Linked DNA regions of Homo sapiens: region 2 is linked to region 1. The links come from fine-mapping of genetic effects on gene expression. A gene starts in region 1. The other region holds a variant in brackets. All regions are shown on one strand. Distances are between the middles of the regions. Region 1 holds the start of CCR7 (C-C motif chemokine receptor 7). Region 2 has its middle 31 kb from the start of CCR7.

What was found. PIP is the estimated chance that this variant, and not a neighbour inherited with it, causes the effect.
Region 2: its variant is fine-mapped to the expression of CCR7 in lymphoblastoid cells (GTEx, PIP 0.96).

The regions. Positions count from the first base shown.
Region 1 is chr17:40,563,511-40,568,893 of GRCh38, reverse strand. It overlaps CCR7 (C-C motif chemokine receptor 7), which reads left to right and starts at 3,422. Exons shown (of 3, transcript NM_001838.4): 1 at 3,422-3,494. The coding sequence starts at 3,485. RefSeq lists an enhancer at 3,867-4,783.
Region 2 is chr17:40,594,236-40,599,618 of GRCh38, reverse strand. No RefSeq gene overlaps it. Among named protein-coding and RNA genes, the nearest start is that of CCR7, 31 kb to the right of the region's middle. RefSeq lists enhancers at 221-520, 728-1,022, 1,449-1,658. The variant T/C (reference allele first, on the strand shown) is at 2,321.

The sequences.
Region 1 (5,383 bases):
TGGGGGATCCTTTCCACACCTGGTGGGTTTGGACTCTCCAAAGTCTACAGGCTGGAACAGCTGAGTCGTCCAAACAGCAAAGGTGGTGCCCCTCACCCCCACCCCAGCCACCCCCAGAACTCCACCTTGTCTCAGGTAGGTGCTACACTGTTGCCCGTGGCTGGCTGGAATTCCAAGCCAGTTGGTCTTATCTGGTGAGGTGCTGTGGAAGTGAGGCCCACAGACCAATGCTGCTCAGCTCCCTGGATTCAGCCTCCTTCCTAGGGGTATGTACAGACCTCCTGCCTTGCCTGAATGGCGGTCACCTTTGCTGGGGTTCCGGAGCCTGAGTATGTAAAGCTCCTGGGTGTCTGTGCATGCCTGAGCAGCTGCTCTGCCAATAATCCAATGCAGCTCTGTGTGTAAGACCCAAAGGCCTGGTGGAGTGGGTTCACAGGGGATCTCCCGATCCAAAGGTTGCAAAGATCGGTGGGAGAAGCATCATTCCCCAGGTTTGCACATTCACTCACCACTTCCCTGGTGGGGGGAGGGGAGGGGGTTTCCTTTGGGTCTGTGTTGCTCCTATGTAGGCCATTGCCCTGCCCTGCTTTCCTCTATCCTCTGTGGGTCGAGCTGATTCCTTAATCAGTCCCAATGCAAGTATCTGGATGTTTCAGATAAAGGTTTTGAAGTACCCACCCCTTTGTTCCTCTCTGAGAGAGCCATGCCCCATACCTGCTTCTAGTTGGCCATCTTTGAAAATAAAATTAAGAAAACAATTTCATTTACAAGCACATCAAAAAGAGTAAAATACTTAAGAAAAAATTTAACAAAGAAGTGAAAGACTTGCAGCCTAAAAAGTATAAAGAAATTAAGGAAGACCTAAATAAATGAAAAAAATCCCATGTTCATGGACCAAAAGACTTTGTTAGAATGGCAATACTCCCTAAATTGATTTACAGATTCAATGAAATTCCTATTAGAATCCCAGCTGGTTTCATTGCAGAAATTGATAACCTAAAATTCATATGGAAAAGAGAGAGATGCAGATTAGTCAAACAATGTTTAAAAAGACAGATAAAGTTGGAGCAGTCACAACTCCCAATTTCAAAATTTGCTATAAAGCTACAGTAATCGAGACAGTGTGGTACTGTCATAGGACAGACACAGAGATTGATAAAATAGAATTGATAGTCTAGAAATAAACCATTACATTTATGATGAATTGATTTCCAACAGAGGTGCTAAGACAGTTCAATGGTGGAAAAAATAGTCTTTTCAACAAATGATGCTGGGAAAACTAGATATCCATATAAAAAATGAAGCTGGATCCCTACCTCACACCATATGCAACAATTAGCTCAAAATGGATCAGATCTAAATGTTGCAGCTAAAACTATAAAAGTCTTAAAAGAACATATACGAATAAATCTTTGTATACTTGAATTATGCAATGGTTTCTTAGATATGGCACCAAAGACACAATTGACAAAAGAAAAATAAATCAATTGAACCTCCACATTTAAAACTTTGCGCTTCTTTTGCCAGAGATTCAGGTTTTAAAAAACAAAAAGCCTTTGTGCTTCAAAGGACGCTATCAAGAAAGTGAAAAGATGATCCATAGTAAGGGAGAAAATATTTACAGATATGTATCAGATAAGGGATTGTAACCAGAATATATAAAGAAGTCTTACAACTCAATAATAAAAAATAAATAACCCAATTTTTTAAATGGGCAAAGGATTTGAATAGAAATTTCTCAAAAAATAATACAAATGGTCAATAAGAGCATGAAAAGATGCTCAGCATAGGTAGTCATTAGGAAAACGCATATCAAAACTACAAAGAGGCCGGGCATGGTGGCTCATGCCTGCAATCCCAGCACTTTGGGAGGCCGAGGCTGGCAGATCACCTTAGGTTAGGAGTTTGAGACCAGCTTGGCCAACATGGTGAAACCCCGTTTCTACTAAAAATACAAAAATTAGCCAGGCATGGTGGCACGTGCCTGTAGTCCCAGCTACTTGGGAGGCTGAGGCAGGAGAATCACTTGAACCCAGGAGGTGGAGACTGCAGTAAGCCAAGATCGTGCCACTGCACTCCAGCCTGTGCAACAGAGTAAGACTCCATCTCCAAAAAAAAAAAAGAAAAAAGAAAAAAAACACAATGAGATACCACTTTACAGCCACTAGGATGGCTAGAATCAAAAGAATGGACAATAGTAAGTTTTGTTGACAATGTGGAACCCTCACGCATTGTTGATGGGAACAAAATGGTGTAGTCACTTTGGAAAACAGTTTGATAGTTCGTCAAAATGTTAAATATATAATTACCATATGACTCAACAATTTCACTTCTAGGTATATACCCAAGAGAAATAAAGCATATGTCCACACAAACACTTGCACATAAATATTTATAGCAGCATCATTCATAATAGCTAAAAGGGAAAACAGCCCAAACATCCAACTGATGACAGACAAACAAAATGTGGCATATCCATACAATGGAATGTTATTCAGCCATAAAAAGGAATGGGGAATGGATCCATACCACCACATAGGTAACCTTGAAAACACTAACTGAAAGAAGCCAGATGTGAAGGTCACATATTGATACTTCTATTTATGTGAAATGTTCAGAATAGGAAAATCTATAGAGCCAGAAAGTAGATTTGTGGTTGCCAGGGGCTTTCGATGACAGGAGGGGAGGGGAGCAGTCATTGCTAGTGATTACAGGGTTCTTGAGAGGGAGTGAGAAAAAATGTTCTAAAATGTATTGTGGTGATGGTTGCATAACTCTGTGAACATACAAAAACCATTGAATTCTATACTTTAAAAAGGTAAATTTTATGGGATGTGGATTATAGCTCAATAAAGCTGTCATTAAGAAAGGAAAAGGAAGGGAGGGGAGAAGAGGGAAAGGGGAGGGAGGGGAGGGGAGGGGAAGGGGGGAGAAAAAAGATACATCGTGGCATATCTCTTCCCTTTTACCTGTCATTATGTGTCAGTGCCTCCCATTGGCCTAAACTACCCAGAAGCCAGAGGGAAAGCCATTTGGGACTATATTCCACTGTGACACTGAGCAGAGCAAGGGAAGGATGGGGACACTTCTCTCACACATCTCTGACTCCCCAACATCTAACCCATGGCCTGGCATGTGATATTCATGCTATAAATATTTGTTGAATCAGTAAATGGCCCCTCATCTAGATTCTGCCAGGCAGCGCAGGGGGCTTTTTGAATGTAAATGACCTAATGATTCAGGATCCTATGACCAGCGACTGTCACCCTCTGTCACCTTTCTTCTGCCCCTTTATCTCTGAAGGCATTGAAGGGGCCCTGCATGAGTCAGGGAGGGCTGGGGGGAGGAGCAAGGGTGGGAGGGGCAGGGAAGAGGGTGGCTTCTCCGACAACTTAAAAGGGGCTTGAACCACTTCCTCCCCAGACAGGGGTAGTGCGAGGCCGGGCACAGCCTTCCTGTGTGGTTTTACCGCCCAGAGAGCGTCATGGACCTGGGTGAGTGAGCCTCTTCATGTGAGAAGGAACAGTACCAGGGTCTTGGACACCCAGACTGACCCTGTGGAATGGGGGTGGAGGATGCGGGTGGAGCGCATAGGGGTGCTTCCTGGAGAAATCAGTTCTGATTTGGTGGGCATTGGAAGCTACTTCCAGAGAATGCCCCCTGCTGTCCCAGGAGGGGTGCACCTGCCCTTTCAGACCTGGAGAAGGGGTCAGCCTTTGGTGCCAGTGGGGACAAGGGAGGGGCCGAGATCATGTCTTTCTAAAACAGCAGGGACATAAGAGAGTGGCGGGGCTGGGCTTGGTGGTCTGGCAGAACCTGTTCTCATCATGAGGGTGATAGGTTAGGCCCTCTGGGACCTCTGGGGACAGGTTTCAACAGAGAAATTCTCCCTAGAGAGCTTAGGACCTTTTACCCACTCTCTGATTCCCACCTTTCTCCCCTGCCAAATATTCATATACCTGTCCACTTGGGGTCATGAGGAGATGCAAATGAAACGTGACTGGGTTGTGAGAATGGTGCGGTGCATTGCAAATGCAAGCTCTGGTTGCTTTCTCTCTGCTGCACATCCCACCTGCTTTGATCTGGCTTTGCTGTTGCCTCTTGCAAGTTAAGGAACGGGCAGGCAACATGGAATGGGATGGCAAGGGGCACTCAGCTTGGAGAAATCATAGCCAGGCCTTCAGCACAGCCCCTGCCCCTGAGCAAACCTCACGCACTCTGCCCCGGCAGATAACTCTACTCTTTAGAAAGCCCTTTCTCAGGTCTAACCTAGAAGGGGTCAAGGGGAAGCACTGAGGGTGTTCTGAGTGGTTCATCCAGCTCCAGACGCCCCCTTTATAAATCTCAGCTGTGGAGTCAGACCAGGCTGAGGCTAAGAAGACCAGGTTCCTAGATGGCTTGTCTCACCAGCAAACAATGCACCACGGCGGCCTCAAAGCCGCAAAGGGTTGGCTTTAAAAAGTGAAGGTTCCCTGGTGCTGTCCTCACACCCCTCCTCGCCACACCACAGCCTCCTTGATTTCATCTCTTACTTTCCCGCCTGCCCTGAACGCTGGATCTGGACCCAGCAAACAGCTGTGAAAGGGTTAAAGTGGTCACCCCACCCACTGACTGTGAACTCCTGAAAGGCAGGTTCAGGTGCTTTGAGGATGTGAGGAGAAAATGTCTGCGGAATGAATGAATACACCGTATCAAGAACTCCGTAGAGTTTAGTTTTTGAAAATCTCTTCCAAATGCCTCATTTCCCAGCCAATCTACCCTTAAATCCCACTCCCCTGCACCCCCTCCACCACCCCCCATCACAATCCCACAGTACAGACGTCACCCACAGAAGACCCTGCTCCAGCCTTTCATACTGGCCTCCAGGAAGGAAACCAAGCAGTGCCCAGTGGTGTGCTACTGGGCATTTGAAAAGCAGCTCCCCGGGGTGGAGCACTGGTAGCTGACTCCAGGGTGGAGGGAAAGTCCTGAATTTGTAGTGCTTGCCAATTTCCATGGTGTAAATTCTCCCACCCTGGCTGATTGATTTCAAGCCATCTACATGACTGAACAGGGGGTTGGGAAGATGTGCAGAGTGTCTTACCCCAGACTAGGTTTAGGGGTGCTAGACTCCTAGGCTTTGATGCAGGGAGAGAGGGTAATCTCTGGTCCAGGAAGAAGGGATATTCTTGCCACTTCACTCAACTTGAGAGAGCCCCAACGGTCAAACCCGAAATACTGGTAGGAGGGGAAGCCGCTGACAAGCTTTACTCAAAACGGGCTCTCTGGGCCGTTGATGGGGTGGGTGGGCCTTGGAGGATCTGTTGTTCTGCTCTTCATCTGCCCAGCAAGGAGCAAGAGGTGGGTGAGGAGGGAGGGTTTCTGTTACACAAAATGAAAACTC
Region 2 (5,383 bases), 31 kb before region 1:
CTTTCAACCGAGTCTGCCATGTATTTCAGGAATAACACATGTTCCGGAAGACGGCCTTTCTTGGGAAACTCACTGAAAAATGAATTAAGGGACTTGCCCAACTGTGTCTCGGGGCAGGAGGTAAGAAGGGCATGACAGCCACGGGACCTTTTCCACCCATTGACCGACACTCCCTCTTTCCCCAATTCTGCCCTACAACGTCAGAGACCGGATCAAATTTCCCTACTTGCTCTGTCTTCACCTCCCCTTTCTCCCCTGCTCTGTGACGCATGATGTCCCTGGAGAGTCCCCCACATCATCACAGAACAAAAACAAAAACAGCAGAGAAAAAATGCCAAACCTCGCTCCCCCTGCCCCCTCTACTATGAGTCGCCCACACGATGAGGGTGCTTGGTTTCAAATACTAGAAATGAGATGGCCTTTTTTTTCTTTTCACTTCTGCTATTTACACAGAAGTGCCTCGGTGCTAAACCCACCATAATTCAAGTTTATTTTTGGATTTCTCAGCTGTAGAAATCTACAGAATGCCAAAATGGGCTGAAGCAACTCTGTCAATAGGAGGAAGGAGAGGGTGGAAGGGAATGAATGTTGTCGAGAACCTGCTGCGGGCTGGGGCCTTACTGATGCGATTTCGTTTCCTCCTTACAAAGACTCTTAGAAGAAACCCTATTATCAATTATCTTTTGAAGATAGTGAAACCGAGATTCTATGTAGTTAAGCAACTTGGTCTAAGTTGAACAATTTGTAAGTGGTGGGACCTAGATTTAAAACCAGGACTGACTCAAAAGCCAAACTTCTTGGTCTCAGCCCTCACTCCCACCCACGTCCGCACCCACCCGCTCTCTTGCTTCCACAGCGAATTATCACGTGCCTTCTGTACCCATGTGTTTGCACTCTCTCTGCCCCAGCCCCCTCCTGTACTTTGCCCTTTTCTGCTTTGGAACAAAAACAGGGCCAACCAGAGAAGGTTCGGGAAATTTATGGTTTGGTTTCGTTTCTCCCCAAAGCATAGTACATGTCTGATTTCAACCCATTTAAGTAACTGACTTCGGGCCCTCTGGGAATCCTGTCGGGGAGGAGAGCCAAGGTGGACAGAACTCTAATGGCAGCATGGAAGACGGCCAGACTTGAAGCCACGCAGATCTGCGCTGGAATCCCAGCTTGGGCACTTAAGGCTCTTAAATGCTGCTAGGCCTCCATTTCTTCATCTATACATTGGCAATGACATACCTATCTGGCAAGTAGCTGGGAGACCCAAATGAGATGATGTGAGGGAAACAGCCCAGGTCAGATTCCAGCACATAGCAGACATCCAAGAAATGTCTCCCTCTTTTCCTCTCCCACATCCTCAGGAAAGGGGTTCAGGGCTGCCACCAGGGAGCCTGGCCTGCAGAGAGCTTTGGTAACTCTCTGAGGAAGCACAGTTAGATTCATTTCGGCCTGTCTCAAATATTTGCAGGGCCCAGGCAAGAGTACAAACAGAGGCCTACGCACTACCTGCCCAGATAGTTACATTATAAATAGAGCTAACAGACTTATAAAATAGGTTCCATTTCATAATGAAACTATACATTTTCATAACGACCTAAAGGGTCATGTTTAAATTTAGAATTCTCAGACTCCTTCGAGAACTCTCAGACTCTCCCCTCAGCTCCCCTTCTCTACTCCCCAGCCTGGATACCTAAGCGTCATCTACAGCCACCATAAACAGCCAGGACGTGGTCATCAACAGAGTCTAGGGGTGCATACCAAGCTGTGCAGTCTACCCTGTGGAGGATTTTCCCTGGGAAGAGGCCCATGCAAGCCTGAAAGTGGCTGAGGACTCTTTGGGCCGGGAATACTGGGTCCTGAGACCTGGAGTGTGACATAGAAGGGGGGACATGGACCAGTCCTTCACCTGACAAGGGTACCGTCTGAGGAAGGCCAGAGAAAGACCTCTAAGGTGTGGGTTCCTCCACCTGAATCTGAGGGCAGGCTGCATTTGTTCAGGTGCTATTTACCTATCACTCTAAACAGGAATTCATGCAGTGAGCCGGAGCCACAATAGTGAGCTCATCCATCTTCCTGAGTTAAGCCCTAAATCTGACATTGAAAAGAAATTATACTTTTGATCATTTCAATTTGTTTTCAATAATCTTTATCTTTCTTCACCCCCAGGACAGGAGCCAAGGAGGGGGAGATTCCAACATGCATACATTGGTATTTACACACAGACTCTCTTCTGCTCCATTTTTGTTCTTTGCTTAGAAAGTCTTTGTTCCAAAAACTACAGACAGAAACCAGTTCAGTGGTTGTGAGGAGCTGAGGGTAGAGGAAGGGG[T/C]TGGCTACAAAGACACGTGAGGGAACAGTGGTGTGTGATGAAACTATTATATACCGTATGTTGTTGGTGGTAGTACATAATTGTATGAATTTATTTTTTAAAAAATTCTAGACCTGTACGCTAGAATGGGTAATTTTTACTGCGTGTAAAATTATACCTCAAAAAACTATGTAATAAAAACTCTTTGCTCTAAACCATATTTTAAGAAAGGAGCAGGATTTTAAAAGGGGAATGTGTTCGGACATCTAACTTCACTTCCTATGGTGTGACATTCAGGGTGAGTCAGTGTAATGGACACCTGTCACATTCATGATGGCGGCTCATCATCTTACGGACAGCTTTTCTTTCTGGAGGAAATTCCTTTATTATTGTCCTGCCTCCCGAAATAGAAGTCAAGAACTCAAACTCCCGGTATCCCCTGCAGTTAGGACACAGGCATGTGACCTACCCTCCACCAATCAGAAGCACTCATGTAGGCATTGATTCATGTGACCTACCCTCCAGCAGTCAGAAGCAGTCATGTAGGTGCCGATTCATGTGACCTACTCTCCACCAATCAGAAGCAGTCATGTAGGAATTGATTCATGTGACCTACCCTCCACCAATCAGAAGCACTCAGGTAACTGCTAATTCACAAATGAGTACTGTATTGACACGAGGGCTGCATGAGGCTTCTATTTTGCTGGTGTGCAGACAACAGAGGCATTTAACTTTGGGGCTTTTAAAAGAAAAACCTTAGGCAAATTAAATTTAACAGAATTTAGTGGAGCAAAAACCAATGTGTGAGTCAGGTATTCGCCTGAGCCACAGTAGGCTCAGAGAGACACTAGCACAGCCACTTGGTGGGAGATTTACAGACAGAAAAAGGAAGTGAGGTACAGAAACGGCTGGATTGGTTATAGTTGGCATTTGCCTTATTTAAACACGCTTTGAACAGTTGACTGCCCTTGACTGGCTGAAATTCAATGAGTGGCACAATAGTAGGTTACAGTCTGTTTACACATCCAGTTAGGTTGCAGTTTACAGTGTAGGAGAAACCTTTAGACAGAACTTAGAATATGTAAGGAAGCAGCTTTAAGCTAAACTTAATTTGATAATTCCCCCCTTTTGGTCATCCTCTTAATTTTGAGAGATAGACCAAAACTTTAGGCACTGATGTCACTCTGTCACCATGATAAAGGTACCTATTTGGTCCTAAATCCCATTGGGAAATAGCAGAACAGTGGGTTTGTGAGGTGGAAACAAGGACTTCAGGTTATTTTTTTTTTAAGGATTAGAGTAGCAGGGACCTCTTTGTACTGCAGTCTCCTGTTTTTAAGAGAAAAGCAAAACTTTTGGTCTGTTTTCTTAAAGTTTCAGATCGATCATGTCACATTTGAGTGACTCTGTTTTGGTTTGGTCTGGTCTGCTGGGGTCTAATGCACAATCTCAGTCCAAAACAATTGCCTCCTATAATTTTGTTTAAAATTTTCCCCCTTCTGGTCAGGTTCTCACTTAGGTGAGAGTGTGACCAAAACTTAGGCCATGAGCTCCACTCTCGCTTACCATCATTTTGGGTTTTCAGTCTCAGCACATAGTTCATAGGTTACGGTGTCCTTATGGCCACACAATTCTTTGAGTTATTGTCATTCCAATCTAGGAGAGACCATCTGACATTCTGGAGATGGCTACGTACAAACATTTAGAACTTTTGAGAGAATACAGCACACCAGGGAGATTACAATTATGACTATCAGAAGGATAACACCAGGAGTTTGGAGTATGCTCTGTATCCAGGTTCCGCATGAACCAAACCAACTAAAATCAAATAGATCAAACAATAAACTCGATAAAGAGTTTACTCATTTCAACCAAGCAGCCTGTCCATTAATCCCCTACAACTGAGTCTCTATAATACCCTATGTATTCCTCCGTGTGTAATTAGATGTGTCAGCAACTGCAGACACTACTTTGTTTAGCCAGTAAGTAAACCAGAGCAATTCTATTAGTTAGTGCAACTTTAGCAAGAGAATTTAAAATCTGTTGTGTAACCAGAGTCTCTGTAGTAGAATCTGTTATCTAGCCTATTATGAGGGATAAATTTTTAATCATTGCCTCATTTACTCTAAACCAAGAAAAAAAGATCTAATAAATGATGCCTATCTAGAAGAGTGAAGGCCTCTTGGCAATGTTTTAACCTATGACATAGGTTAAGAGGAGTGGACCAGTGTTCTGTTTCTGAGTGATTATGAAGCAACAAAGATACCAATAAAATTTTTCATCCACATTGGCCCTTTATCCTTCATCTGTCAAGACGTAAGGGTGTCCATATAAAAGGTTTGCTTCGAAATCCTCCACTAATAAAAGTATACTCCATGAGTGTACAAAAGAGACCTTATTTTCAGTTCTATTTTTCATAGAGGCCTGTATTAGTCCATTCTCGCACCGCTATAAAGAAATACCTGAGACTGGGTAATTTATAAAGAAAAGGGGTTTAACTGGCTCACAGTTCTGCAAGCTGTACAGAAAGCATAATGCTGGCCTCCGATGGGCTTCTGGGGAGGCCTCAGGAAATTTACAATCATGGCAGAAGGCAAAGGGGCAGCAGGCCACATCTTACATCATCAGAGCAGGAGCAAGAGAGAGAGAGTGGGGAGGTGCCACACACTTTTGTTTAAACCAGATCTCATGAGAACTCACTTTTGCAATGACACCACCAAGGGGTTTCTTACGTTAACCTAAGAAACCACCCCCACCATCCAATCACCTCCCACCAGGCCCCACCTCCAAATTTGGGATTATAATTAGACATGAGATTTGGGTGGAGACACAGATCCAAACCATATCAAGGCAAAAGCAAGGAAAAACTGAGAGATACAAGTCTCACGGTAGCAGAGAAGTCTTGATCCATGATCTTGGGAAAAAGTTGTTCATATCTGGGATGCCATCTGTTTCTGGGGAGAAACTTCCTTGGTTATCTCTATCTTTAGGTCTCCAGTGGCTGTACAATTAAGAGTCTGGAGGTGCCCTTCTGAGTTATGAGATACGAACAAGGTTCAAGTTCCCAAAGTTTTCTGCAGTGTG